Linked DNA regions of Homo sapiens: regions 1, 3, 4, 5, 6 and 7 are each linked to region 2. Evidence: fine-mapped QTL for protein levels in blood plasma. Region 2 holds a variant in brackets. A gene starts in each other region. All regions are shown on their forward strands.

The links. PIP is the chance, under the fine-mapping model, that this variant and not a neighbour inherited with it causes the effect. Protein levels are from antibody-based Olink assays in UK Biobank. Linkage for the fine-mapping came from a reference panel and not from the study's own genotypes, which makes the PIPs less certain.
Region 1: FST starts here. The variant in region 2 is fine-mapped to the plasma level of the FST protein (UK Biobank, PIP above 0.99).
Region 3: it holds the start of SERPIND1, and the variant in region 2 is fine-mapped to the plasma level of the SERPIND1 protein (UK Biobank, PIP 0.98).
Region 4: APCS starts here. The variant in region 2 is fine-mapped to the plasma level of the APCS protein (UK Biobank, PIP 0.92).
Region 5: it holds the start of MBL2, and the variant in region 2 is fine-mapped to the plasma level of the MBL2 protein (UK Biobank, PIP 0.98).
Region 6: KLKB1 starts here. The variant in region 2 is fine-mapped to the plasma level of the KLKB1 protein (UK Biobank, PIP 0.98).
Region 7: FAM20A starts here. The variant in region 2 is fine-mapped to the plasma level of the FAM20A protein (UK Biobank, PIP 0.97).

Annotation. Positions count from the first base shown.
Region 1 is chr5:53,478,995-53,483,190 of GRCh38, forward strand. It overlaps FST (follistatin), which reads left to right and starts at 1,635. Exons shown (of 6, transcript NM_013409.3): 1 at 1,635-1,882; 2 at 3,886-4,077. The coding sequence starts at 1,798. RefSeq lists an enhancer at 2,868-2,937.
Region 2 is chr2:27,505,935-27,510,130 of GRCh38, forward strand. It overlaps GCKR (glucokinase regulator), which reads left to right. Exons shown (of 19, transcript NM_001486.4): 11 at 547-645; 12 at 854-951; 13 at 1,301-1,377; 14 at 1,747-1,843; 15 at 2,043-2,140; 16 at 2,234-2,317. Among named protein-coding and RNA genes, the nearest start is that of GCKR, 11 kb to the left of the region's middle. The variant T/C (reference allele first, on the strand shown) is at 2,139.
Region 3 is chr22:20,772,168-20,776,167 of GRCh38, forward strand. It overlaps SERPIND1 (serpin family D member 1), which reads left to right and starts at 1,946. Exons shown (of 5, transcript NM_000185.4): 1 at 1,946-1,978. All of the region lies in intron 19 of PI4KA (phosphatidylinositol 4-kinase alpha), which reads right to left.
Region 4 is chr1:159,585,713-159,589,908 of GRCh38, forward strand. APCS (amyloid P component, serum) reads left to right here and starts at 2,114. Exons shown (of 2, transcript NM_001639.4): 1 at 2,114-2,273; 2 at 2,389-3,153. The coding sequence starts at 2,210. The coding sequence ends at 2,996.
Region 5 is chr10:52,771,647-52,775,805 of GRCh38, forward strand. MBL2 (mannose binding lectin 2) reads right to left here and starts at 1,138. Exons shown (of 5, transcript NM_001378373.1): 1 at 1,091-1,138.
Region 6 is chr4:186,225,588-186,229,783 of GRCh38, forward strand. It overlaps KLKB1 (kallikrein B1), which reads left to right and starts at 1,920. Exons shown (of 15, transcript NM_000892.5): 1 at 1,920-2,000; 2 at 2,608-2,666. The coding sequence starts at 2,609. RefSeq lists an enhancer at 427-1,097.
Region 7 is chr17:68,599,327-68,603,522 of GRCh38, forward strand. It overlaps FAM20A (FAM20A golgi associated secretory pathway pseudokinase), which reads right to left and starts at 2,041. Exons shown (of 11, transcript NM_017565.4): 1 at 937-2,041. The coding sequence starts at 1,340.

The DNA of each region.
Region 1 (4,196 bases), not on the chromosome of region 2:
CCCAAACAACTGTCTTCTAATATTAGCACGGCTGTATTTCGGGATCTATTATAGTCTGTCCAGACAGATCCCATTGTAATGGGATCTTTTATTAAAAGATTAGCACTATCTCCTGCAGTTGGTGGAAAAAAATCTGTTATCACTGAGTTATTTGCAGTTGTGGAGGGGGGAAGGTTGACGGAAGATGGGGGGTGGGAGGGCTAGAGGAGGACTGGGGGAGGGTCTGGCGGGGGGAGGGCAGTTGCAGGGGGGGAAGAAGGGCAGATTTGAAATTCGTAGAACAAATCCCAGTGACCTGCGAATGTCCAAGAATTTTGTCTGCATACTTCGCTATCTGTTGTCCTTCGGGCTTCAGATGCGAAAAGAACAAATTTAAAAGGCAGCTTTGGAATAAACAATATAGCATTTTCCGTGAAGTAATCGTTTTATATAAAAGGAAATATCGCCTCCTCAGTTTCATTCAGCGGTGCCAAAAATGTTATAAATGAGAGACCCGCCAACTTTCAGCGAAGAATGCCAGGCACTGTACTTAATAAACTGAGGCTACAGAAGTTCATTATGGATGTTGCAATCTTTTTTATTCCGCGAAAAGAGAGAAGACGAGACAGAAAGAGAGAGAGATTGGAGCCGAGGAGACTGAGAGACAGACAGAGGCACACAGGACAGAAACTGGGGAGTCTCCAGGCGGGAGAGGAAGGGGGGGCCAGACCGCCTACGTCGGCGCCCCCGCTCCGGGCTCCGACTCCAGACGCCGCGAAGTGAAAGGGGAGAAAAGAAAGGGAGAGGGCGAGGCTGTGCCGCGGGGAGACCGGGCCTGAGGTGTTAAACATTTTTGTTTGCTTCCGACTAGTCCAGACGAAGGGCCGCGTCTCGGTAGCGCTCTGCCAGGGTGGAAGGTGCCGGGGCCGGGGTTCCTAGCAACACCTCTGGGCTGGGGGTGGCTGCAAAGTCAGGCACTCACAGACCCAGACACAAAACCTCGCGGGTCCCGCGCCCAGGCTGCGGGTGCCCGGAACCGCCGCGAGGCCGGCGCGCTCCGACCCGACCCGGGGCGGGATATTTGGGCAGCCCGGGGCTCTTCGGCCGTTTGCAAAAGTCTCTTTGGAGCGGAGGAGAGGCAGCACGGAGACAAACTCCCGGGTTCCCCCCGCCACCGCCTCCAGCGCCCCCACCGCGCCCTCCCTCTCACACTCGCGCGCGCGCGCACACACACTCACACACACACTCACACACACACCCGCCACCCCGGGCGCGCCGGCGCTGCCGGCGAGCGGCGGCGAGCAGGACTTGAAGTGGGTGTTCTTCCCCACTCCCCACCCCCGACGCGTAGCCCCCAACCCCCGCCCCGGTCGCCTTCCCCCTCCCTCTCGCTCCTACGCAAATAAGAACTCGACGATTCCCTTCCAGCCGTTTTGATTTCGGGCACCTCCGAAAGATAATTGGGAAGGGTTTCCAGAAGGTGGGAAATGTCACCTGATTCACACTGAACTTTTGAAAGCTCCCCACCCCCAAGGAGCCGCGCACACCCTCGCTCGCGGCCGCCCTCCCACAGCCCCACACACTGGGAGACCGCCCACCGCAAACCGCGGAGACCCCCGTCTAGATTTAAAGCGCGGCTGCGCCCGGCTTCTGACGTCCATTGAATCGCGCGGGCGGCCGGCGGCGAGCGCGGGGCTGCGCCGGGATCGCTGCGCCCTCCGCCGCTGGCCTCTGCGACGCGCGCCGCTCGCCCGAGCCACCCGCCGCCGCGCCGGCTCCCCGCGCCGCTGCGCTCCTCGCCCCGCGCCTGCCCCCAGGATGGTCCGCGCGAGGCACCAGCCGGGTGGGCTTTGCCTCCTGCTGCTGCTGCTCTGCCAGTTCATGGAGGACCGCAGTGCCCAGGGTAAGCGAGTGGGGATGCGCTGGGGAGGCTTGGCTGAGGACAGGGGGGTCGACTTTTCTGTGGTCTCCACTTGGTCTGTTCTGAGCAACGCTGCTCTCGGAAGATGTTGAACCAACTTGGGGACTCCGGGATGGAGAGGAGTGGGAAAATTGTAGGCAATGACACTTTAGGACTGGGAACTGAGTTTGGAGCTCGGTTATCTTGAAAAAGGAAAGGGAGCGAGCTGGGGTCTTAGTAGTTAGGGTTAAATGCTCCAAGTTCTGGCCATGATAACTTTAGATGTGATCTCCTCTGTTTGGCTCTGAAGAAGGGAACAAGTATCAGTAGTAGCCTGGAGATTTCAGTCGACCCATTTGCAGTCTCATCTCTCTCCCTCCCACATCTTTTGGATACTTAAAAAAAAAAAAGGAAAGAAAGAAAAGAAAACCTGGGGGTTTGGGGGAGAGATACTGAATTTTATTTGGTGGCTGGGGGACGTGGTTTCAGAAACTTTGCCCAAACTTGGAAATGTGGGTGCTGAAGATTTTCAAGGGAAGTAGCTTTCTGCCTAGTGGATGCTTCTTCCAACCCCATCCCCCATTCTCGCAAAAAAAAAAAAAAAAAAAAAAAAGCCAAATTATTACCCCAAAGTGCTTTGAGCACTTTACAGTTTTTTTCCCCTCTGCCTCATTCTTCTTTCTGACCCTTAGCTTTCTGTAAAACAGTGAGCAGCCCATAACTGACTTAAATTCTGAAATGGGTTAAGAGCAAATTTCTGAAGCTTGCCTTTTAAAAATAGATTTGTTTATTTCAATTAGTCTTTGGGCAGAATGTTTAAAATAATAATAGCAGCTTGCGATCCAATGATTGTTAAAGTCATATTGGTGATTCATGAGAAGTCTTCTCGACCCAAATCCGAACATTAAAAAGGGGGAAGAGGGAGAAATCACTTGCAAATATTTCTTGCTAGGTATGAGATAGGTACTTATAACCGTGAAATGGTAGGAAGACTCCCCCCTCCCCCCACCTTAAGGCATTACTTTCCCTGCTTCAGCGTTAACATTTTAAGTATGTTGTAAACTGCCCTCCTGGGCACTGCCCCTCGCCGTCTGCATGGCACTGCGCTGGGTTGCCCGCCTTTAGAGGAGAGGCTCTGCCTGGTGCCCGGACGTGGGCGCGGAGGAAAGCAGCCCTCGGAGATTTCGAAAGATCGCGGTGGCCGCGGGCGTGCTCCGGTCTGGCGGATTGCAAAACGGGCCCGTCGGGCTGGCTGCGCCTGGAGGCCGCGCGGGGTAGCTCCGGGCTGGGCCGGGTTGCTTTTTTGCTTTCATTTTTCAGAAGTGCCTTTTGCTTGATCTGTTTCTCTCTCTCTCTCTTTCTTTTCTTTCTTCCTCTCTCTCTTTCTTTCTTCCTTTTTTTCTTTCTTTCTCTTTCTTTTCTTTCTTTCTCTTCTTTCTTTTCTTTCTTTCTTTCTCTTTCCTTCTCCCTCTCTCTCCCCTCCATCTCTCCTCTCTCCTCTCTCTCGTTCTCTTACTTTCTTAACCCCTGTCACAAATAATTCCTGTACCCGCCTACATGAAACCAGCATGTAAAAACATCCGTCGCATCCTGTTTTTGTCAGGTTCTTTAATCTGCTCTTCGAGTCTCTGCAGGTTATGAAATGGGACGAATAAAAGTAAACAGTCTAGTAAAAGTCAATGCAAGCTGCACGTGTTGTGTCTGGGTCACTGGTAACTGACATTGATATGGCTGGGGCGCCCTGTCTTCTCCCTCTCTCCCTCCCTCCCTCTCGCCCACCTCCCATCTCTGTGATCAGGGCTTCCCCCTCCACTGCCTTCTTTTTCCACCCCTCCACCCCTTTCGATTTATTTCCTACTTTTCTCCCGCGTCTCTCTCACTTCCCCTCCTCCACGCTCACCCCCTCCCCATCCCCGCCGGGTCTCCTTCGCTAGCCACCTCGCTCTCCCTGCCCTGCCACCGCTCACTGCTCACTCACCCACCTCCCCACCCTTGTCTCTTCACAGCTGGGAACTGCTGGCTCCGTCAAGCGAAGAACGGCCGCTGCCAGGTCCTGTACAAGACCGAACTGAGCAAGGAGGAGTGCTGCAGCACCGGCCGGCTGAGCACCTCGTGGACCGAGGAGGACGTGAATGACAACACACTCTTCAAGTGGATGATTTTCAACGGGGGCGCCCCCAACTGCATCCCCTGTAAAGGTAGGACTCCTTCTTCCCAACTTGCAGGCCCTCAGTAGAGGGCGTCTTACCCTTAGCTTCCCCACTACCTGACTGGGGTTTGGGAGTAGGAGAGCTTTGTTCCTGGGCTTCCCCTTCCT
Region 2 (4,196 bases):
CAGTAAGACTGCAGCCCACCACGCCTCCCCTGGGAAGGGAGCTGGGTAGTACATGCTGTTGCTCCCACCTCATAGTTGCAGAGTCCGAATTGTTTCCAGTGGATCCTGGATTCCTCAGGCCCAGACCTAATCCCTGAGCCTGCCTGGGGCCTCCAAAGCTAGCCTGGCTCCCTAGGGTCCTTTGATTTGGGGGTGGTCCAGGCCATGCAGGTAGAGCTTATCCTACTCTGGACCTGCCTCCCTCTCCAGGGTCTCTAGCCTCACTCCTAGGCTGCTCATGCCCCTTCCCAGTGGCTCTCAGATCCTGCTCCTCCTGGTGCTTTCCTGCTGCACTCGTCCCTCTTTCTGCTCTTTTGTTTTCTGCCCATTGAAGAAGCCCTTGCTGCCCCTTCGGAACGCAGTCTGGGCCTACTCTCTGCACCTCTCCAGGGACCAGCAGAATTTAGTTCTAAGGGAGCTGTGCCTTCACCTCCCCGCTCAGGGAGGCACCTAAGCTTTCTGAGGGGGAATTGGGCCCTTCTTGAGAGCTGGTGGCTTTTCTCCCAGATGCCTCCTGGAAATCTTGCGGACATTTGAGCGAGCTCATCAGGTGACCTACAGCCAAAGCCCCAAGATTGCCACCCTGATGAAGAGTGTCAGCACCAGGTGTGTGGATATGTGTTTAGAGGTGAGGATGTGGCCCGGATGGAGAATACTGAGAGCAGGGAGACTCTGTGAGACATGTTAACACGGTATGGGCGATAGGATTGCATGTTGAAGGGTCATGGTTTGTTGACTCCTGTGTTCTTCTGTGGACATCTCTGGCCTCTTTGCACGGTGATCTCTCATGTCCTGACCTCTGACCCATTCTCAGTCTGGAGAAGAAAGGCCACGTGTACCTGGTTGGCTGGCAGACCCTGGGCATCATTGCCATCATGGATGGAGTAGAGTGCATCCACACCTTTGGTGCTGGTGGGACCCCAGTCCAGATGTTCTTCCTGCTTCCTCCTGATCCCAACCATTCGGGCTGCTCTCCAAACACTGTCCTACTCCCAACCCATGGGTGTTCCTCAGTGTCCCACCTTCCCTATCTAAATAGGCACTTCAGTCAAATTCTTCTTCCTTAGAACCCCAACTCAGTCCTTGATCCCTTCTCAGCTCCCACCCCTGTGCTTAACTATGGCCTCCCACAAGGGCTACTCCTCACTCTACGCCCCACTTGCCACTTTTCCTCCCAGTCCCATTTTCTCCCCCTGAAGCCTAGAACCTTCCTTTCCTATATAGCCAATCACTCCTCTCTCCTTGTTCTTAAACTTCCCAGATTTCCGAGATGTCCGTGGCTTTCTCATTGGTGATCACAGTGACATGTTTAACCAGAAGGCTGAGCTCACCAACCAGGTCGGAGAAGAACAGGACTTGGGGAAGCTGGGGAGACCACTAGTGTGCTGAGGGTGGAAGAAAAGGGGAAGGCGGAGCTAGGTGGGAAGTTCATTGGAATAGACGGTCCAGAGAAGAGAATATGGGTCAGAAGTCATGAGGCTTTGGCTTAGCATGGGCAGTGTGGAAAGCTCTAGATCCAGTCCCCAAACTTGGCCCTAGTCCACTGACTTGTTACATAATCTTGGGCAAAACACTGTACCTTTTGAACTTCAGCTCTTTCACCTGTGCACAAAAGTGTTAGATCTCCTCCACGGCCCCCTTTAGTCCTCAAGTCTGTGCTTTAGAGTGTTTTCATGGGAGGGACCCTCCCATCTTCTTCTGCCCCAGGGTCCCCAGTTCACCTTCTCCCAGGAGGACTTCCTGACTTCCATCCTTCCCTCTCTCACGGAAATCGATACTGTGGTCTTCATTTTCACCCTGGATGGTGAGAGGGAAGATGGGAGTGGTGAGGGGTGGGGAGGGGGAAATAGAATGGTTCAGAGGAGCTGTTGTTTTTCTGGGTCTTAGGGTACCTGCTCAGAGGGAGGGACGGGGTGAATATCCTGACTGGACCCCAGCCAGGGGAGCAGGAGGAACAGCTGCACAGCCAGCCTTTCGACTCTGATGCCCTCCCCTTCTCCTAGACAACCTCACGGAGGTGCAGACTATAGTGGAGCAGGTGAAAGAGAAGACCAACCACATCCAGGCCCTGGCACACAGCACCGTGGGTCAGACCTTGC[T/C]GGTGAGAGTCCAGCCGTGACAAAGGGACCCAGGTGGCAGTTGCAGCCAGGCCTTCCTGGAGATGCCTCTCCTGCTCCTCTTTCTCTCTCTCCAGATCCCTCTGAAGAAGCTCTTTCCCTCCATCATCAGCATCACATGGCCACTGCTTTTCTTTGAATATGAAGGGAACTTCATCCAGGTATGGGGAATGAGAAGGTCCTATCTGCAGTAAGGGGCTCAGAGGGTGAGGGATTCCAAGAATCAAAAAACCCAAGGCTGTAGGGCAGAAAGTTTGGAGACCTCTCTGACCCTCACAAAGCCAGCTGGGCAAGGTCATGGGTTACCAGGTTACTAGTCAGAATTCCCAAGGCAATGAACTACTGGGCTCAGCTGTCTCTAGGAATATGCAAAAAGTTGCGGGATAGGCCTCCAGTCACCTGACAGATGTTCATTTGTCCTTTGGGACAGGTTAATTATTTTTACTTTGAGACAGAGTCTCACTCTGTCGCCCAGGCTGGAGTGCAGTGGTGCAATCTTGGCTCACTGCAACCTCTGCCTCTTGGGTTCAAGTGATTCTCGTGCCTCAAGTAGCTGGGACTACAGGTGTGCACCACCATGCCCGGCTACTGTTTGTATTTTTAGTAGAGATAGGGTTTCCTCATGTTGGCCAGGCTGGTCTCGAACTCCTGACCTCAAGTGATCTGCCTGCCTCGACCTCCCAAAGTACTGGGATTACAGGTGTAAGCCGCTGCGCCTGGCTGGGACAGGTTAATTCTTGATACCAAAGTCATCATCATTATCCAAAAGCTTTTACCACACCTTTTTTTTTTTTGCAAGTTTACTATGCTGAATTCATTGCAGATAACTTTATGTGCATATAGTCCCTGCTTGCCAATGAATTATAATCCAGCACAAATACTGATAATAATTACAGAAATAATAATCAGTGTGTGTGCTCTTTGCAATTTAGAGCTTTGTGTGGGCATTGGGAGCTCTGGATGCCGGTCTAGCTCTACAGTGTGGCCCAAGAAAGCAAGCAATTTTACATCTCTGGTTCTCAGTTTTCTCATACACCACCTGCCCACCCTCCATGGGCAGAATCAGGGCCCTGAAGGGTTGCTCTGGAGAGATGTGGTCTCTTATTCGTTATTCAAACCATGTCTGTCAGAAGTTTCCTGGCTTGACCAGACACAGCTGAAACACTGACTTACCTGGACTCAGAACTCGTATAGAAGCGGAAGTTTCTCTGCCCCTGAACAGGGAATCCACTCTCCTTCCAATGTCTTTCATTCTTTTTATTTTTTAAAGACAAAGTCTCACTCTGTGGCCCAGACTAAAGTGCAGTGGTGCCATCTCAGCTCACTGCAACCTCCGCCTCCCCTGCTCAACTGATCCTCCCACCTCAGCTTCTCAAGTAGGTAGGACCACAGGCACTCACCACCATGACTGGCTAATTTTTGTATTTTTTTTGTAGAGATCGGGTTTCTCCACATTGCCCAGGCTGTTTGCCAACTCCTAGACTCAAGTGATCCACCCGCCTTAGCCTCCCAAAGTGCTGAGATTGCAGGCGTGAGCCACTACGCCTAGCCAAAACACTGTATTTTTAAAGAAAAATGTTCATTTTAACAGCCATACATTTTTTATAGATACATTTTTTATAGTAAAGACGTTACAAATTACAGAAATGCAAAAAAGAAAAAATCACTCCAAATCTACCATCTTCAAAAAAAAAAAAAAAACACTCTAACAAATTTTGGAGAATGTCCTTTTAAATTTCTATTATATGCATATATAAATATATTTGTACAAAAGTAAGACCATACTTGATATGCTGTTTTAAAGTTGCTTTATGAACATCTTTCTGTACTAATAGATCACCATCATTTTCAAAAATTATTATTATTATTATTTATTTTTATCATGCCGGGACATGTTCTCATCTGATAGATCACTACTATCATTTTTTTTTTTTTTAAGATGGAGTCTCGCTCTGTCACCCAGACTGGAGTGCAGTGGCGCGATCTCCGCTCACTGCAAGCTCTGTCTCCCAGGTTCACGCCATTCTCCTGCCTCAGCCT
Region 3 (4,000 bases), not on the chromosome of region 2:
GTCACCCTCATTTCAGAGAGCAGAATACTGAGAGCTGGAGGCCAAGGGGCAATTTCAGCCAGGGTGGCTGGTGACGCCTCGGTGAAACCAAGAGCGAACAGTGAGAGCAGCGGCCACCTGCTGGTCTGCAGGGATGGTGTCCTGGGCAGAAAGAATAGCAAGTGCCAGGGCTGTGCTGGGGCCGGGCTTTGCATGTGTGAGAACAAGACAGAGAATGAGGGAGGTGGGCCCACGAGGAGTGTGGGCACAGACAGCAGCCTCTGCCTGTGGTGCCACGCTGAAGACTCAGTATTGTATGTGACAGATGAAGGCTCTAAGAAGACAGCTCTGACAAAAGCTAGAGTGCAAAATCAGACTCAGACACAACCACCGGTCTGTGTCCTGAACACAATGGACCTTTACACTCTGGAATTTCTCAAACGGAGCAATGCACAGACACCCCCATGGGCCCCTTGCACACCCGCAGATTCTCCTAGGAGTCACATTCTCTCTTCAGATAGACTCTGGGTGCCGACACTCCCAAACATGCTCTTGAGGAGCAGTCTCTGTGATAAGCTGATCTTCCAGACAATCCAGAATATTCTTAAAACTTTTTAGATCATAAAATTTAAAACACAAATTAAAAAACAAATTATCATAAGGCCGGGCACAGTGACTCATGCCTGTAATCCCAGCACTTTGCAAGGCTGAAGCAGGAGGATCACTTGAGCCCAAGAGTTCAAGACCAGCCTAGGCAACATAGTGAGACCCTGTCTCTACAAAAAAGTCAAAAGTTAGCTAGACATGGTGGTGTGCACCTGTATTCCCAGCTACTTGCAGGGCTGAGGTGAGGAGGATTGCTTCAGCTCGGGAGGTTGAGGCTGCAGTGAGCCAAGATCACGCCACTGCACTCCAGCCTGGGTAACAGAGTGAGACCCTGTCTCAAAAAACACATAGGGCCAGGCGTGGTGGCTCACGCATGTAATCCCAGCACTTTGGGAGGCCGAGACGGGAGGATCACTTCACTCCAGGAGTTCAACACCAGCCTGGCCAACATAGTGAAACCCCGTCTCTACTAAAAATACAAAAAATTAGTTGGACATGGTGGTGTGCGCCTGTAATCTCAGCCACTCAGGAGGCTGAGGCAGGAGAACGCTTGAACTTGGGAGACAGAGGTTGCAGTGAGCTGAGATCGCACCACTGCACTCCAGCATGGGCAGCAGCGCGAAACTCTGTCTCAAAACAAACAAACAAACAAACAAACACCCATAAACACAAAATGTATCACAGCCTCAGAGATCCCCACGAATGCCTAAGTGGCCCTGAATTTGGGAGGCACTGCTCAGTAATAGTCCTATCTGTCCCACAACAGACAGGAGTGCTGGGCTGCACCTACTGGCAACAAACACAGCAACCCTTGACTGAAGAAAGGTCCATGCCACAATCCCCTTATTCTGTAAGCCACTAATTTTGTCCTCTCTCCTCCACCTTTCACTGAGGAACGAGCTCTTGGAAGGACAGGGACACCCGCCTAGTAGCTGAGCCAGCCACATCAGTCCTGGAGAGCAGGTGGAGGGCAGATGCTGTGATCATCCCAGAAGAGAGGACACAGTTGGAGGCAGATGCATGGTCTCTACTTTCAGCTACCCTCAATGCAGCCTGGTCCCCAGAGGCCTGAAGAGCGCCTTGTTTATGTGGTGACCTCAAGAGGGGCTGCTCCTGCACCAAGGCTATGTGTGCATGCTAACACAGTAACCGTCATATACTCAAAGTGTCAGCTCTAAGAACTGGAGATGAGGAGCTGCAAGCCACTCTACAGTTATCAAAGGCACAGCTGAGGGGGTTTGTGCTGACCAAGCTGGTTGCCTGGTGTTTGGATTGGGACTTATTTACTTTGGAAAATATGCAGCAACAGCCCAGCACCAAAGTTCACATCAAAATCCCACTGATGACCTTGGCTGCTTTCATCTCTGAAGCGCCACTTCTCAGAAACACAGAGGTAAGTTGGGTTTCTAATGTTTCTGCTGATTATAAATTATTTTTGGTGTTTACGGATAGGCAACTGGTTCATTTTTCTAGCAAACTAAGAATTCAGAAGCTTTCTACACTGTTTTAGAAGTGGGAAATGGTTTCATTTTTCAGTGTGCCTATTATAAAATTGTGTCAGTTCCATTGTTGGGAGAGTTGACAAACTTAGAATAGGAGCTGTGGAATAGATGAAAATATTGTACTTATATTAAATTAATCGAATTGGATAACTGTCCTGTGATTATGTATGAGAATATCCTTGCTCTTGGGTATTTTCCCTGAAGTATTAGTATTAAAGGTTAGAGGGGCCGGGTGCAGTGGCTCACGCCTGTAATCCCAACACTTTGGGAGGCCGAGGCGGGTGGATCACGAGGTCAGGAGTTCAAGACCAGCCTGACCAACATGGTGAAGCCAAGTCTCTACTAAAAATACAAAAATTAGCTGGGCGTGGTGGCACGCGCCTGTAATCCCAGCTACTCAGGAGGCTGAGGCAGGAGAATCGCTTAAACCCGGGAGGCAGAGGTTGCAGTGAGCGGAGATCGTGCCACTGCACTCCAGCCTGGACAACAGAGTTAGACTCCGTCAAAAAAAAAAAAAAAAAGAAGAAAAAAGAAAAAATGTTAGAGGAACAAGATATAGGAGACCTACTCTCAAATGGTCTAGAAGAAAAAATGTGTATGTGCATGCCTGTGAGAACACACACGTACGTACACACACACACAGATAATGACAGGGCAAAGGTTCCAAAATTTTAAACCTGGTAAATCTCGGTACGGGTATACAGGAGTTGTTCTACTACACTATTCTTTCAACATTTTTGGAAGTTTGAACTTACTTCAAAATAAAAAGTTTTCCAAACTTTAGGCAGTTACTTCTCTCCCATTCTGCCTGCTCTGTTGGGCCTGGAGACCATACACCAGGAGGGATGACGGTTTATCAAGTGTTATGCTCTGATGCGTGACTGAAAAGGCCAACCCAGCTCTGGCAATTAGCAAGAAAGCACAATATGAAGTTCCCAGGAAAAAAAAAAAGCAAAACAAACTTTTGAATGATTTATCTTTAAAATATATTGTTTCTCTTCAAACAGTAATCTGGATTTAATCACAACCTAGTGATAGTTTTTAAACGTCTTCTACAATGTTTGTTATACTAAATAGCAAAACATCAGGAAGATTTACCTTCAGATCTTTAATTTCAATCCATAAAAGATATCAGAGATATTTTCTCCTTCCTCTGGTAAGGGAATGACGAAAACTATTTTTGGCTTTTTATCAGATAATGTGGGAACAGGGTATAAGAAGTTTCCAAATATAACTTCTGAATACCGGGATAAAACATGCATGTCTTTACTCTGCCACTCTATCTGGCCTCAGATACGTTTTCCTGAATGCTTATTTATTCAAGTTGGTTTTTGTTTTGTTCTTTAACCTTATTTTTATCTGAGAAGAAAACATTTTCCCCCTTTGTTCCTTCTTCTTTTGGCTTTCTTTTTTAAAATAGAGATGAGGTCTTGCTATGTTGCTCCAGCTGGTCTTGAACTCCTGGGCTCAAGCGATCCTCCTGCCTTGGCCTCCCAAGATGCTAAGATTACAGGTGTGAGCCCCTATGCCTGGTCTTCTTCTTCTTGATCTTAGCCAAAAGGCCAAGAAGTGATAAGAGGAGGACACTTGAAGTGTAGTTGGGCAAGGAGCCTTCTACCAGCTGCTTACTTTCTTTGTTCCTGACTTTTAAAAGTGTGTTGCTATTGATACACAGTCTCCTGATATGTAAAATGCTGGGAGGATGAAGCTAAGTTACTCAAAGTGCCATTCAGAAACTGGGCCCAGTTCTATTTGCAGCTACATACATTAGAAATCATTTCTAGAGGCTGAGCATGGTAACTCATACCTGTAATTCCAGCACTTTGGGAGGCCAAGGCAGGAGAATTGCCTGAGCTCAGGAGTTTGAGACCTGTCTGGGCAACATGGTAAAACCCCATCTTTACCAAAAACAC
Region 4 (4,196 bases), not on the chromosome of region 2:
ACAGTTTCTTTTCATGTGTAAGAAAAATTGTTAGATGAAACCAATGATCTAAATATAAATAAGTCCTAATACCCAGATTCAGTCTAGAAGGGATTCAAGATAAATACAATAATATCTATAATATGAGACAGATAGTGGTAACAGCCATAAAGGCTCTAAAATGATGGTAATAATAACCATCCAGATACTGTTCCATGTACTTTATGTATATCATAGTATCTCATTTATCCTTAGAGAAACACTGTGAGGTAGATAGTTTTATCTTTGTTTCACAGAGAAGGAAACTAAGGTTCAGAGGGGTTTAGTGACTTGCAGAATAGTCAGCCACTAGTAAATGGCAACATTGGAATTCTATCCCAAAGTCTTTGATCTTAACCTTATGGGAAGTACGAAAGAGGGGAAATAATGTATAGTTGGGATATTAGAAAAGTCTTCATGAAGCAGATTGTTTTTTATTTTTTATATTTTTGTATAAATTCAAGGCATACAAGTTTAGTTTTATTACATAGACAGCAATAACATAATAGTGAAGTCTGGGCTTTTACTATAACCATCACCTAAATAAGCTTGAGATTAATGTGGAAGAATGGCTGGAATTCCTAGAAACAGGAAAAGAAAATAAGAGAGAAATTCAAGACAGTATGAAGGCACTGAATAGAAGTAATGAAATCAAGAAAGCCAGGAAGGTATAAAGAACAACAATTAGAGGTGTTTGACTGGAGAATAGGATTAGATTCTGAGATAATAGCCAGGTTAGAGCCAGATTGCAAATGGCATTGGCTTCCAAGCAAATGGTCTGTATTTAATTCAGGAGTCAATAGATGCATAATCCCAACTTTATCACTAACCTATACTGTGCAACAAGCCAGATAAGGCTTCACAACCTGGGATTCCATTTAGAGAAAAAAAGTAGAGAATGGAAACTCCCCAGGGATGAGAATAGGAAGGATACTTTGAACAATGATAGAGAAAGTGTATTCTTGGTGGCAGTGATTGTGTCATTGAAAAGGCTGATTAGGTCTGTGGTGAGCTAACAGAAGAGAGAGTGAACAAGAGGCTAAACAGTAGGATGAGAAACAAGACACCATATAATTCAGGGATGAGAGAGAAAGAAATAATGTGGCTAGAAAGAAGAACTTCAGTTTGATATCTCAGAGGCAGAGAAGGTTTGAGTGGTGGTTAATAAACTGTACAGAGAGAGAATGAAGGAGACATAGAAAGAATGAAGGTGGAGATCTCTGGGGCTGTGAGAGAGCCAGTGACCACTGAATCCCCAGCACCTAGTGTAGTAACTGAGAGCTAGTGAATAAATGTATTAGTGGGGTCATCACCAAAGATGGATTAGATATACACTCAATGACCAAGGACTCAAAGAAGAGGAGAGAAAAACTTGGGGAGATGCTGACATCTCTGCAGGTAGCATGAAGTAACCAGAAAACAAGTCGTAATGAGAAATGGAAAGATCTAGGATAAGGAAGCACCATGATATGCAAACGAAAAAAAAGCACTGAGTAGAAGTAGCAGAAAAATACTAAGCTTCATGGGGACAGAAAGTTTATTCTCCAAGTCCCTCTTTCCCCTTAGCTTTGCCTGGATGTATTACTTGATGTTGAATTAGTCAAAGTTGAAGGCACTTTTTAGGGTCTTCAGCAGAAAGCAGAATCCTAGAATATCCTACAAATACAAGACAACTTGAGAACTATAAAAGAAAGAAAAGGCCTTGTTCCCATAGCCCACAAGAGGGCTGAGCTCAGCGATACACTCTGTGTGGCTCAGGAGCTTCTGGCAGAGCACAGAGCCATCAGAGAGGGGGCCCAGAGAGCAGAGAGAGGCTCTGCTGACATGGCCAGCCCAGCGCCTCATCCCATCCATAACCCTGCTGCCCTGCAATGACTCTCTTCCCAGCAATAAAATCTGGGTCACAGGAGTTGGAGCTCTAGCCATCACTTGTCTCTAATAAATAACTCCCATTGATTTTCCAGCTCAGGGCTCACCACTCCTTCACCGTAAGCGCCAGGAGGCAGACCTGGAAAATCACTCACATATTATTGGTGCTCTTCCTCCCCCATCCTCACCCAAGGTGCATATAAACCCTGAATAACCTGAAGTCTAAGGGCATGAATATCAGACGCTAGGGGGACAGCCACTGTGTTGTCTGCTACCCTCATCCTGGTCACTGCTTCTGCTATAACAGCCCTAGGCCAGGAATATGAACAAGCCGCTGCTTTGGATCTCTGTCCTCACCAGCCTCCTGGAAGCCTTTGCTCACACAGGTAAGGAGGTGAAGGAATGGTCAAGAATCATAAAGTGAGAAAATAGGTTGAAGCTGAGATATCTTTTCCCTGCATTTATACTGAAGGTCATTATCTTTCTTTCTTTATCCCGCAGACCTCAGTGGGAAGGTGTTTGTATTTCCTAGAGAATCTGTTACTGATCATGTAAACTTGATCACACCGCTGGAGAAGCCTCTACAGAACTTTACCTTGTGTTTTCGAGCCTATAGTGATCTCTCTCGTGCCTACAGCCTCTTCTCCTACAATACCCAAGGCAGGGATAATGAGCTACTAGTTTATAAAGAAAGAGTTGGAGAGTATAGTCTATACATTGGAAGACACAAAGTTACATCCAAAGTTATCGAAAAGTTCCCGGCTCCAGTGCACATCTGTGTGAGCTGGGAGTCCTCATCAGGTATTGCTGAATTTTGGATCAATGGGACACCTTTGGTGAAAAAGGGTCTGCGACAGGGTTACTTTGTAGAAGCTCAGCCCAAGATTGTCCTGGGGCAGGAACAGGATTCCTATGGGGGCAAGTTTGATAGGAGCCAGTCCTTTGTGGGAGAGATTGGGGATTTGTACATGTGGGACTCTGTGCTGCCCCCAGAAAATATCCTGTCTGCCTATCAGGGTACCCCTCTCCCTGCCAATATCCTGGACTGGCAGGCTCTGAACTATGAAATCAGAGGATATGTCATCATCAAACCCTTGGTGTGGGTCTGAGGTCTTGACTCAACGAGAGCACTTGAAAATGAAATGACTGTCTAAGAGATCTGGTCAAAGCAACTGGATACTAGATCTTACATCTGCAGCTCTTTCTTCTTTGAATTTCCTATCTGTATGTCTGCCTAATTAAAAAAATATATATTGTATTATGCTACCTGCATTTGTTTAGTGCTTGTCATAGTCCCATATCTTTATCTTATGTCTACTACTTATCTATCTACTAATTGGTGTTTCATTGGTAATTGGTGTTTCATTATCCTGAAAACTCCAATTGCCAAGTACGGGGAGGAAAACCTGTAAGTAACTAGAAAGATATATCACAAAGCCAGAGCACTCAATGAGCACAACAGTGGCAATACTTAAAAGCTACTAACAATCATTTTAATGACGATTCAAAATATGTGTGGAATTGTAATCACAATTCTCCTATTTGTTTTTCCAGCTACAAATCGATCAAAAAGGGGTCTGAGGTTGCATCAGGTAGACAACTATAATGATATAAGTAAGCAATAGTTGAGAACCTGACAGCAAGTAATAAGACAGGAAGAATAAAACTAGAAGAAGTCAGAATGAAAACCAAAAAAGTATGAGACTGGGATCATTTTGTATGAAGACAAACATAACTTTATGTCTCAAAAACCTCAGTAGGACTGTACAATGCTTGATTTTCATAATGTTCTCTTGATGTCATCAAAAAATATTATACTCTGAATATTGCTCACATGAATATGCTGTCTAAAATTCTTCCATGGATTCACACTTCTTACAGGACATGATTTAAACCTCTAAATATGACATTGCCCTCTATAACCTGGTCCCAGTTACTCTCTCTGAAATGTACACAGAGAGTATACACAGAATACTCTCTGAAATGGACTTTCCATGTACATTTCAGATACAACTCTTAGCAGAGCAAGCCACATCCTAACTATCACACTGAAAAATAATTGTCAGATGCTATTACTAGTAGTTATTTTTATGGTTATGAAAAGCATGGAACACAGTGCCTGGCACATCGTCAACAGATATAAGTTGCATTCCCAGAGAAGCAAGGATCCCAGAGGGAGTTTGAGCTACATATATGGGAAATAAGACAGGCTTTTCTCACTGATAATAAGTAGAGCATGTAGTCAGTGGAATCAGAAAGATAGCATCCAGAAGCTTCAGGATGGTAACCAATGTCATGATTTCAAACTC
Region 5 (4,159 bases), not on the chromosome of region 2:
TGGTGTGAGAAAACTCAGGGAAGGTTAATCTCAGTTAATGAACACATATTTACCGAGCATGCCCTCTGTCCTACAATCTGGGTGCAGGCTATATAGAAATAGATGACCCATCCCTGGCCTCTAGCTGGGGATTTGGAAAAGTAAACATTCCTTGTGACACTGCGTGACTAGTACTTTAACAAAGGTAGGCACTATGATGAGCAGTGGGGATCCTAAGGAGGGGTTCATCTGTGCCTAGACACCTGGCGTTGCTGCTGGAAGACTATAAACATGCTTTCGGTGGCAGTGAGAACAAATGGGACCGTGCATTGCCAGCTGGCTTATGCCTGTTAGCTTAGGGAATGAGAATGAGTGGAAACCCAGGTGTCTGTAGGAGCTTCCTCTTTCTCTCCATGTCCTCTTCGGGTCCATCTGCCACCTGAATCCCATCTTTGTATCTGGGCAGCTGATTCCCCTCCAGGACCTGTTAACTATCATTTACTCATTGGCAGGCCCTGAGCTGAAAGCTGGTGATCCAAAGAGGAAGGTCTCAACCTCAGATCAACCTCAACCTTAGTCACCAACCCAGCCCAGAATTAACTGGAGTTTGCTTCCCCTTGGTGTTTTAGACAGGCTTGCCTGGGTAAGCATTTTCTCTGGAAATTTCTTACTACGTTGGCCCTGGCAGAGTGCTAAATACCTCTCTACTTTCTGGCAGGAATTCCCCATGTTCTGTGAGTCAAAAACCACTGGCAATTAGAAAACTTGCCTTGAATCCTCCTCCCATTTCTCAGTATTAACCTTTCATTTGTTCTTCAGAGCTTTCTTCCAGCTATTGCCCCCTAAGAAACCTCAGCAGCCTAGCCCCATAGGTCTAAGCCTCCAAGTTTCCCTTTGAAAACAAAGACAGTCTCCACTGCAGATGAACAGATAATGGAGGAAAGTCACAGATGCTCCAGCACAAGCAGAAAAAGAGACATCCTCAACCTGATTTCTGCTTTCCATCCCACTCCCCCCACCCCTAGAAAGCCTCCTCCATGCCTCCAGGGTCATGTCAGCTCCCCAAACCCTTGATCCGGAAACCCAGATTTATTCACCAGAAATGACTTACTGGTGTTTCTGCAGAGCAGGGACTCAGTGACAAGGACGCTGGCCCTCTAGCCTGGGGCTCTGGCAGATGCCTCAGAGTGAGGGAGGAGGCTGGGCTCAGCAATGTAGGGCCCAATCAACCTTGTGAACAAGGATATCCTGGGCCTGGCCTTCAACTCCAGATTAATAAACAGCTCTTCTCAGAACTATGAGAAATTTAGGAGCCTCCAATACAGTGCTCGGCAGCTGTCTGCTTTAATACAGCACAATTCCTCTTTCAATTGCCATCCATTTTGGCAAATCTCATTGCTGAACTACCACAGCTAGGTTCACCTAGTTAGTCCTGTTGACATCCTTGTTTCCAACAGAAAAACAAAGATACTCACAAATGCATACACATGCTCATGCACACCAACTATACACACAGACACGTGCATGCACGCACACACCCATCCATGAAACCACATAGACCTCTTGCTGCCATTAATGCATTAAGGCCATTCCTGCCTCAGACTCTTCATTTGATGTCTCCATGCCTGGACCCCTTACGGGCATCGCCAGCTAGCTCTTTCTCTTCTATTCAAATATTCCAATTTCAGAGAAATCAGTACCTTGATCACTTATTCTAAAATAGTCCTACCTAGCAGTCTCTATCCTCTTAGCCTGAATTATTTTCTCTCATGTTACTTACACTTTATGATATTATAGTCATTGACTTTACTTTTCCAGTTTTTCATTGTGGTAAAATAGACATAAAATTTACCATTTTGACCATTATTATTAAGCACACAACTCAGTAGCATTAAGTACATTCACACGGTTGTGCTATCATCACCACATCATGGGATGATTTTCATCATCCCAAACTGAAACTCTCAACTCATTAAACTAGAATTCTCCATTTACCCCTACCCACAGCCACTGGTAACTTCTGTTTTACTTTCTGTCTCTCTGAATTCATCTATCCTAGGTACCTCATATATGTGAAATCATACAATAGCCCCCTTGTATCTGGCTTATTTCACTTAGCACAATGTCTTCAAATTTCATCCTCATAACAAGAATTGTAAACTGTGTTAAAGACTTTGGGTTTCCTTCCAGGGGGCACTAGAGGGACTGCAGTAGTGGAGAGGTGATCACATTTGAATTTTGCAAGGCTTGTTCTGGCTATGATGTTGAGGGGAACAGGACTGGAGAAAAGCAGATCTAAAAGGAAGTGCTTGCCATGATCTAAGCAGCAGAAGACAGTGGCCTGGGTCAGGGTAATGGCAGCTAGATTAAGAAGGTAGGCACACTTGAGAAACAGGAGGTATTGATTGCACTTGAGAATTAGCTAGAATAGTGAGTGATAATAAGAAGTTTTCATGGGCACACACATTTATGACTTGACTATCTAGGAGCCACTCAACTGAGATAAGAAGCAAAAGAACAGCACTTGGCACTATAAGATCATGGGTATCGTGTGTGTTAATGGCTTGAACCATCTTGCTGTGGTTAATGGGGACAATCTAGAAGGGATGGAAGAATACTTTTACGAACATAGTTCATTTGATTCTCAACTACATTACTGATATGGCTTTCAGAAAAATGCCATGTAGCTTGGGGTGTTGGGGAGCCCATCCTGAGAAGTTCAGAGGCTGCGGGGCCATGTGGTGGGGGTACTATGGAGGCCTCCAAACACCAAAAGAAATGTGAGTAAGATGCATTTCCAGGTCCCTTCCAATTGAAGTCTTCTTGGCTTGTGGAGGGACTGGCTTCCTTACTTCCTGCTGACCTGTCTGCTGTGCCTGGAAAAATGTCCAGGATGGTACAGAGCCACATGCCTAAAGCCATCAGTGGATATCAGGAGATCCAGGGCCTAAAGAAGACAGGGCCTGAGAAGACTTGTTTCCCTTCTTATTCTTTAGCAGCCAGAGCTTCCCCCTGCTCCTGCTCCAGTGGCAGAAGGTGAGGTGAGGTAGTTGACTCCAGGTCACTGGCGGTGCTGGCTTTAATCACAGTGCTTGCTTTCATTGTTTACCTAGTCCAGAGGTCAGGAAACTGCTCTCCAGACCCTGAAATTTCCTAGAACTGGGTTCAGAGGGTGTGGGTATCTGGGGGAAAGTCAATCTAGCAATTGATCCGGAGATTGGAGTGTCACCCAGTTACATCCTGCTCTCCAGAAGGCCTTTCCCAAAAGGAGAGGCCACTCTCCACATGCCGCAGCCTGAATGTCTCTCTCCACACGAATGCCCACTCTGCACTCCACCCCATAGATAAGGCCACTGTGTGCATTTGTTCTGGACTTTAAAACCCTTCCCAGCCAGGCGTGGTGGCTCACTCCTGTAATCCCAGCACCTTGGGAGGCCGAGGCGGGCGGATCATGAGGTCAGGAGATTGAGACCATCCTGGCTAACACAGTGAAACCCCATCTCTACTAAAAAATACAAAAAAAAAAAAAACAACAAACTAGCCGGGCGTGGTGGCGGGTGCCTGTAATCCCAGCTACCCAGGAGGCTGAGGCAGGAGAATGGAGTGAGCCCGGGAGGCGGAGCTTGCAGTGAGCTGAGATTGCACCACTGCGCTCCAGCCTGGGCGACAGAGCCTCTCCGTCTAAAAAAAAAAAAAACTTTCCACTTTCCTAACACTGCTTCCATTCTGGCAGCGCCACAACAAATCCACCTCACCCCAAGAGGCTGCAGAGAAAACTGCCTCTCTGACCTGCAGGAGGACTGCCTGGTGCCCTACATCCCCTTTTTTGTAGACTAGGGTGAAATCCCAGCTCTCCCACTTCCCAACAGTGTGACCTTATTCAAGTTCCACTGCCTTCATGTCCTCAGTTTCCTCGTCTGGGAAAGAGGGCACCGCTGCCTTGGCTGTGGAGTGGTGTGTCCTTAACTGGTCCACATTCAGAGTGCATGGCACGTGGCTCACCATGACAGCCTGCTTAAGAAAGGCCTTCATTCCCTCCAGGGTGACTGTTCAAGAGTCTTCTCAGCTTGGGAAGCAGTGTTCTTGGGTGGCTCCATGTGAGAGGCATGGTTTGAGATTGGAAACCAGAAGGCTTGGTTTTGTCTCATGAATATGAGCTTAGATAGACCCCATATTCTGG
Region 6 (4,196 bases), not on the chromosome of region 2:
CGCCTGGCTAAATTTTTTTTGTATTTTTAGTAGAGATGGGGTTTCACTGTGTTAGCCAGGATGGTCTCGATCTCCTGACCTCATGATCCACCCATCTTGGCCTCCCAAAGTGCTGGGATTACAGGCATGAGCCACTGCACCTGGCCGAGGATCTCTTTATATTTAATCTATTTGGAGTTCTTTTGGGCTTCATAAATCTGGATGTTTATTTCATTTATGTCTCCAAATTTTGAGAGTTTTCTATTCTTATTTTTTTAAATAAGTTTCTGCAACTTTCTCTTTCTCTACTTCTTCTGGAACTCTTCTAATGCATATTAATTTTCTTAACAGTGTCCTATAAGTCTTGTCAGCTTTCTGCAATTTTTATCATTCCTTTTATTACTCTGACTGGGTAATTTCAAATGACCTGTATCTGAGCATGCTGATTCTTTCTCCTGCTTGATCTAGTCTGCTGCTGAAGCTGTTTGTGAATTTTTTCAATTCAGTCATTTTGTTCTTTAGCTCCAGAATTTCTGTTTCATTCTTTTTTATGGTTCCTATCTATCTTTTTGTTGAACTTCTAATTTTGCTCATGTATTGTTTTCCTGATTTTGTTTACTGTCTATCTATATTGTTTTGTAGCTTATTGAGCTTTCTTAAGGCAATTATTTTTAGCTCTTGTCATGCAGTAAAGATCTCCATTTCTTTAGGGTCACCTCCTGCTGCTTTATTTCCTTCCTTTGGTGGTTTCTTGTTTCCCCGATTATTTGTGATCAGTGTGGCCTTGCACTGAAGTAGGCACCTATTTCAGTCTTTACATACTAGCTTCAGCAGAGAAAGCCATTCACTAGTCAGATTGACCAGAGATTGTTGGTGGGCTGTCTGTTGGGGTCTATGCACAGGATTTCTGCTGGAGTTCTAAGGTGGGAAGGGCTGGATTCTGGGTTCATTCACTGTGGTTGTCTGTATTCTGTGCACAAGGACTGGCTTGAAGCATGGATCCTTGGGGGCTGACTTGGCACTGAAATGAGCCTTAAGCCTGCGTCTGCAGGGGCCAGCCTAACATGGGGATCACCTGGCACCTGAGTTCATGGGGATAGGCCTGTTCCTGAGTTTATTCAGGCTGTCCTGGGAACAAGGTCCACTGGGGTGAGCCCAGCATCTGGGTCCACATGGCCCAGCATGGAGCCAAGATCTCTGGAGGCTGACCTGGTGCTGGATCTGCAGGGGATGGCCTGGATTCTAGGCCCATGGGTGCCAACTTGGAGCCTGGGGTTGCTGGGGCTAACGTGGAGGCTAGATAGAGTCTTGGGGGCCAGGCTAGAGCTGGAGCAGGCCTGAAGTCTAGGTTTTGTGTGGCCATCTTGGAGCCTGAAGCCCCAGGGGCTGACCTGGTCTGGGGTGAGCATGGGGCTGAGGCCACAGAGGCTGGTCTGGCCTGTGGCAGGCCTGAATCCTGGTGCTGGGGTTTACTGGAGTGGGCTTGGTGCTTGGGATCTGTGGTGAAGTTAGGTTCTATCTTAACTGTCCCTCCTCCATGCAAGAGGGCATCTCTCTCCATACTGTGCTGCCCAGGCTTGAAGGTGAGATGACACCGGTAATGTGAAATTGTCCTTCCTATACACTTCTATGTGTCTTTTCTTATTTCTGTGCTGCAACCAGGTGGCATAACCTCTCACCTGATTCCTTAGCTCTAGTGAAGTTATTTTCGTGCATGGATACTTGTTCGAATTGATGTTTCTGCAAGGGATGAGCGCTAGAAACTCCTGTTCTGACAAACTCCTATTCCTATTCTTGCTGACATCACTCCCTGAAATAGTTAATATACTTAACAGCTGAACACGGATAGGATGTTCATGGAATATGTTGACAGGACAAAAAGTTGAAACTGTTGGCAGAAACCCAAAGTCAATATTGAAGCCAAGCAAAATATTGCCTGCAGTGCCACATTAGAACAGCTTGAAGACCGTTCATTTTTAAGTGACAAGAGACTCACCTCCAAGAAGCAATTGTGTTTTCAGGTAGCAAATTTTTATTATTCTGATTGTTTCCAAATAAACTATAATTTTTAAGTATAATTTTTTACTTTATGAGAAAATTAATCATTTATATTCTAATTTCCTGAGTATGTAGAGAGTATAGATAATGTTCCTTTATGTAGAAATATTTAAATGTAAGATGATTTTAAATCAGAAAGAATATTTGATTGATTTAAAATTTTTAAATGGGCTTTAATATTTTCAGAGGTTTTCTTTACTTAGGGATTTTTGGACTGACATTATTGCCATTATTTATTAATTTTGTTTTTGCCCAAATCAAGAGGTTTCATAATTGTTTACTCTCTCTCTACCAATTCCCTTTCCAACATTACTAGCCACAGAGTTGGCCAATGAACAATAAACACAACAGTAGTCTGGAGGTCTCAATTTGTATCTTGGGAAGCATTATAAATTTTCCAACTCCCTAGACACAAATGTACCAAAAAAAAACCCTTGTTTTCTATACCAGTAATTGTGTGCTTTGTCTTGCAATTCAGACATTTACAAGAAAATCTAAATCACCTTAAATTAAGATTTATGTTAAATGTGGTCTAAAACCAGCAGAGTTATGTATTGTTTTCTTTTTTAGAATGATTTTATTCAAGCAAGCAACTTATTTCATTTCCTTGTTTGCTACAGTTTCCTGTGGTAAGTGAATTATCTATAAAACATGGAATTCAGGCTAAGACAGGAGTAGCCAAGCAAGTGGCACCACCCCTGGAGAAAGCTATTGAACATACAGCTTCGGGGGTGGAGATTGTCCCTGATGATTCAGGACACGTGTCTATTTAATGTTCCACAACAAGGACCACTTGTCAGGTATATTGCTGTAGACATATGTTGCAGACCAGAGGAAGGAGCTCAGAAGTAGGAATGTCTTGGGACTTGTGTTAACAAAAACTTCTGTTCGCAGATGACACTCTGCAAAGCAAAACTTGAAACAAAAAAAAATTAGTCCTCTATTTTTATTATCAACAGTAAAAAATTAAACTTTATCTGAAAATTCAAAAGAGTGCTAGGCATTTTATAGTGTCTGGGTCCAATCCAAGTATCTGTTAGGAACACCATACATAGTTTTACTCTGGACCGCTAGGGAACCATTTCAAAAATGAAAGTAACTGGTTTAAATTTAACTTAGCAAACCATGCATTTGGATAGTTCTAGGTGAATAGCTTTCAACACCAGATTTAGATCTCATTTCTCTATTAATTTCATTAATTTTTGGAGAATAAAAATGATTCTGGACATTTCATTAATCATTACAGAGGGAGTTTTCTCTGTGTCCCCACAAGGCATGATTCTGGGTCTATGGTGACTTAAGAGGGCCACACAACAATGAGTATTTAATTTTCCTCAGATGTATGGCTACAATAAACATCTATAGGTAAGGTTTACATTCATAAAGAGACCTTTTTTTTTCCAGGAAAAAAGACTTTTATTCCCCCTAAATCACAACTCCCCTGTGTCTGTCCCTCAACCCTGATTTCTCTTCTAAACCGTAATTTACAAACCCATGTGCAAACCCACTGAAAGGTGAGAAGGAGCATAAGCCAGAGACACTGGGAACCACAGCCAACTACAGGGGGTTTTTCATTTTTTTGTTTTGTTTTGTTTTTTGGCAAAATAAATCATGATTATGGCTAGGAAAATCAGGGATGTAAGTAAGCAAAAATTTAGAAACTACATATTGCATGTAGTCCCCAAATTCAGAAACAGTCATCGTTAAACATCTTTTATTTAGTCTTTCAGATATTTTTCTACATATACCTATTTGCACATTTCACAAAAAAGAGTTATTAACTGTGGACACTCTTTGACTTGCATTTTCCACTTATAGCTATCTTTTGGTGCAAATAAGTAATATATTTTGGAGCTTGCTATTCTTCTCTTTTTATGGTATTTTTGTGTGCACATTCTTATGCTCTTATTCAGTTATTTCTGTAGAATACAATTTTTGAAATAAAAATACTAGATTCAAAGGTGTGAATATTTTTGAAGGTTTTGTGGTGTGGTATCATGAAATTAGGTTTCAGAAAGTTTACTCCATAGTTGACTTTTTCTACCAGCTAATAAGAGTGCTCATTTACCCCACTTAGGCCAACTCTAACAGGCTTCTGTTGCTTTGCATCCTGACATATTTATCTTTCTGGAAACAGTGTCCTAATTTATTTCTGCAGA
Region 7 (4,196 bases), not on the chromosome of region 2:
AAGTTCTGTACTTCAAAACAGAGTCCTTAACTCATACGAAGGCTTCCTGCCACTAGCAAGGGATCTCAGTAATGAGCGTGCTGCCTTCCCTAACACCCCCATCCTTTTCCAGAAAGATTCTTAATTTTATCCTAAATATATTTGATATTTTTTCCTCTGTATTTTGCTTTGGGTTTAAAAAATTCCCTGAAAGATTTTTTTCTCGTCTGTGGAAGCATCAAGCCGCAGATCCAAGTCAGTCCAAATCACCAGGATCATACAAGACGATAAAAGTGCCTTCAAGTTCTAATACTTGCTGGATGGGCCCAAGCCGCGTTTTAAATGTGAACAATGGGGTGGCTGCGGCAGAGAACTGACCATTTACTTCCTGCCTCAGATGACCCCCTTGTGATCTCTGAAACTGGGCAGAGGAATAAGGAAAGGGAAAGAACTGGGTTTTGGGGAGAAACATGCTTTCTGGAAGGCGCCCAGGTTTACCCAAAGAGCACAGTTAAGTGCTGAATTTCAACTAGCTCTGGAGTCACCCTGTTTGGGGCCTCATTCTGGAAACCCGAAGTCCAGCGGCAGCTTTCCTCCACATCAGGACAGAGAGTGGGGTTTGGGAGCGGACGAGGGAGCGGGAGTGGACGAGGGAGCAGGAGTGGGGCTCAACGACGACCCAGGCGCTCAAGGGGAAGGGGCTGAGAGCGTTTCTTCGCTGTGCGGCTGCAATAGAAACTTTTTCCTCGTACTATCTGACTCCGGGACTGGACTGTGAGGTCTGCAACAGCTGGTGGGGTTCGGGTGGGGAACACACTCTAAGCCCAGCGCCAGGGCTGGAGCCGTGGGTGGAGCCGCTGCAGCCCTGGGCCGGGGGCGTCAGGAAACTCGAGACTGGGGCGCGGGGAGGCCCCGGCCAGAGCGCCCGCTCTCCCGCGTCCCGGGCGGGGTCCTCACCTGTTCCAGCGGGCCACCTTCCTCCGGTAATACCGCAGCGCCTCCTGGCTGGCCAGGAGCGAGTCCTCGGCTCCCAGGAGAGGCGGCTCCTCCGGGACGTTGTACAGCGGGTGGGCGAAGAGGGCCTGCAACTTGGAGCTCGACCCGCTGTGGCTGCCGCCAGCCGGTTCAGTCCGGGGCTCGGTTCGGGAAAAGTTGTGCACGATCGTGCCGGGGTCCGAGGCAGCTGCGGCCGAGTCCCGCGCCAGGGAGGAGGCGCGGCCGGTGCACGGGCACCCCCGCGGGCGCTCCCGAGGCCGCAGCTGGCGCTGTACTTGGGGCCAGAGGTGGAAGTAGAGGTCGGCGGAGAGCAGCGCGCCCAGCAGCAGCAGAGTCAGTAGGCGGTCCCGGCGCAGCCCCGGCATGGCGTGCTGGCCAAGGGGGACGCCGGGGGCAGGCCGGCTGTCTCCGGGGTCCCGGGAGGGGTCGCGGGGTGCGGGCAGAAGAGGTGCCTGGAGTCCCGCGGGTGGGCCGGGGTCAGTGAGACCGGAATGCTCCCCGCGCGGGCTAGTCCCCTGTGGAGGGGTGTCGCTCCTCAACTTGGGGACCAGGTGCACGGAGCACCGGGGCTCTCGGAGTCAGCGGGCGTCGCTTCTCCGCGCCGAGTGAGCCGAGGGAATGGGGTTCCCGGGGTGCCCGCTTCTTGCGCCTTTTCTCCCGTGCGCCCGCCCGCCCGGACGCTCGCGGCAGGTGAAGGGCCCCGGGGCGCCGGCGCCGGCTGCCACCGCGGGCGGACGGGCGACGGGGCGGGGGGCGACCGCGGAGGGCGGACGGAGGCCGCCGGCTGCAAAGCCCGGGGCGTCTCTCCTGAGGATGCTGTCGCTCGGCGGCGGCTGCTAGTGCTCCCGCGACTCCTCCTGCGGGCGGCGGAGACGCCAGTGCCGGCGGCTGGCACGGGCGGCGCGAGTGGGGAGTTGGCGAAGCAGGAGCGGCTCCGGGGAGCTTGTCTGTGCGCCTGGACTCCTAGAGGCAGAGGTAGCGCGGGGCCTCCCCGAGCCTGGCCTGGCGCCGGCACCCCCACCCACTCTCCGCTGGCACCTGCCTCTGGCGCAGCTGACGGCCAACTCCCGATCCGAAGCCGGCGCTGCCCTTGCACCTTGTCACCCACCCACTGCCTGCGCCCTCCCCCTCGCTCGGGCCTCCCACTTTCCCTGCCCAGGTCTCAATCCAGTCACTTTAAGGGACTCACGCGAGGGGTCCGAAGCCTCTTTTTACCATTTCTATTATTTTTAGGGAAAAAAAAACCACCACAAGCCCCCTAAAACCCTTTTTTTCCTGTAAGCTTTGCCAAATGAGTGTGTGGGGGGGGGTGGGGGGAGGCGGGGGTGGCAGTGTTGGTATCTGTTCTTTCTTTGTGTTCCCTTCCACCTCCGCCCCCCTGCAGAGCGCAGGGCACATCAAGATTCATAACAACTACCTACCACATGCCTGGCACATAGTAGGTGCTCAGGAAACACGCTCTTGGTGAAGGAAAGAGCTTGACCTTTAAAAGTAAGGTATCAGTTTTACCTAGAATCTTGCTGATTTCCTGTTTGGAAGGAGTTTGATTCCAACTCTGCCTGTACTTTAAAAAGAGGAAATGTTTCTTGCACTCAGGGAGGGAGGGGCCCTGATGACCCCACTCCGAACTTTTGAGTTTAGCTTGGTGTGAAAGTAGTCCACCCAAATGAATCACTGGAGGACACATTTAGGCTTTCTCCAATATTCTGTGAGGTAATGTACCCTCCCCACACCCAGTTTTCCTTTTGAAGAAGAGGGAGGGAGTCCTGAACTCCTGGCTCCTCTATTTAATGACCCCATAGTATAGTAAAGTGAAGTCTGATTGGAGAGGCGGCCCCACCCTGCTGAATTTCAGGAAATCCACCAGAAGCTGCTTGCCCAGGCAGCAAAGCTTCCCATGTAAGTTAGTTCTACTCTTTAACCCCCTCCCTTCCCTTGCTGGAATTGAGAACCCTCAGACATACTTTGACTTGTGGGTTCAGACCAGAGTTCTTTTCCCCGTGGTTCAGTGTAAGATTTCTTCGGGACTTTGCAGTCTCCTCAAATGTAAATGAAGATAATGATGGAACCTACCTCCTAAGGTTATTATGAGACTTAAATGAATTGAAGTACAATTATGTGTCACGTCTGAGAAATGCATCCTTAGGCAATTTTCCTGTGTGTGTGAACATCAGGGTGTACTTACACAAACCTAGATGGTTCAGCCTACTACACACGGAGGCTACATGGCATAGCCTGTTGATCCTAGGTACAAACCTGTACAGCATGCGACTACTGAATGCTGTAGGGAGTTGTAACACAGTGGTGAGTACTTGTGTGTCTAAACATAGGAAACATACAGTAAAAATACAGTATTGTAATCTTATGGGACCACTGTTGCATTGACTAAAATGTTATGTGGCACTTGACTATGTATAAATTACTTAGAAGAGCTCCTAACTCATCCTAAATAAGTGTGAAATATGTGTTTGCTATCATTATGATTACTTATTAGTTCCTGTAGTACACTAGGCTTGGTTAGAGACTGCTCATCGCTAGGACAAAAATAGAAAAGGATGGAAAAGGAAGATAGCAGGAAGGAACCTGCTTTCAGGGGCATAACATTGTGGCCTGAGTGCCCAGTCCAAGTGAAAAAGCCCAAGACGGTACTATTCCCAGCTACTCCACTCCTCTGGGTATGATGGTGGGCATTTTGAGGGGTTCTAGAACCTCCTCCTTTTTATCTGGAATTAAATTTTAACTGATTTCCAATTTCTGAGAGACGTTGCAACTTCTAATGTGTTTAATTAGATGTCATGGCAAGCGAATGAAGAAGTCAGGCATTGAATGGTGGTGATGTAACTGCAGTAACTGTGTGGCAAACTGATGCGCATTTTTCTCGGCTGGCAAAGGACGTGGATGTGGTGACACTGCAGGTCTTGTGACTTCAATTCTCCTCAACCCATGGGGTCATACTCGCTTAGTAGACTCTTTTTTTTCTGGCCCCAATTTAGGGAACAATAGTGTAACTTGCTTGGAAATTATGTAAACATATTTTCCATGCCCTTTAAAGGTCACAGTCAAGTGCAGAACTGCATGTGGGAGTTAGATATTAAGTGTGAATGAAGCTGGATAGGAGAGTGGAAATCCTACCAGTAGGATTGGCCAATAGGATGTTGGCTTCCTCAGGTTTGCCTCTAATCTACCTTTACCCCTCCTAGAAATGAGCCTTCTCCTGCTCC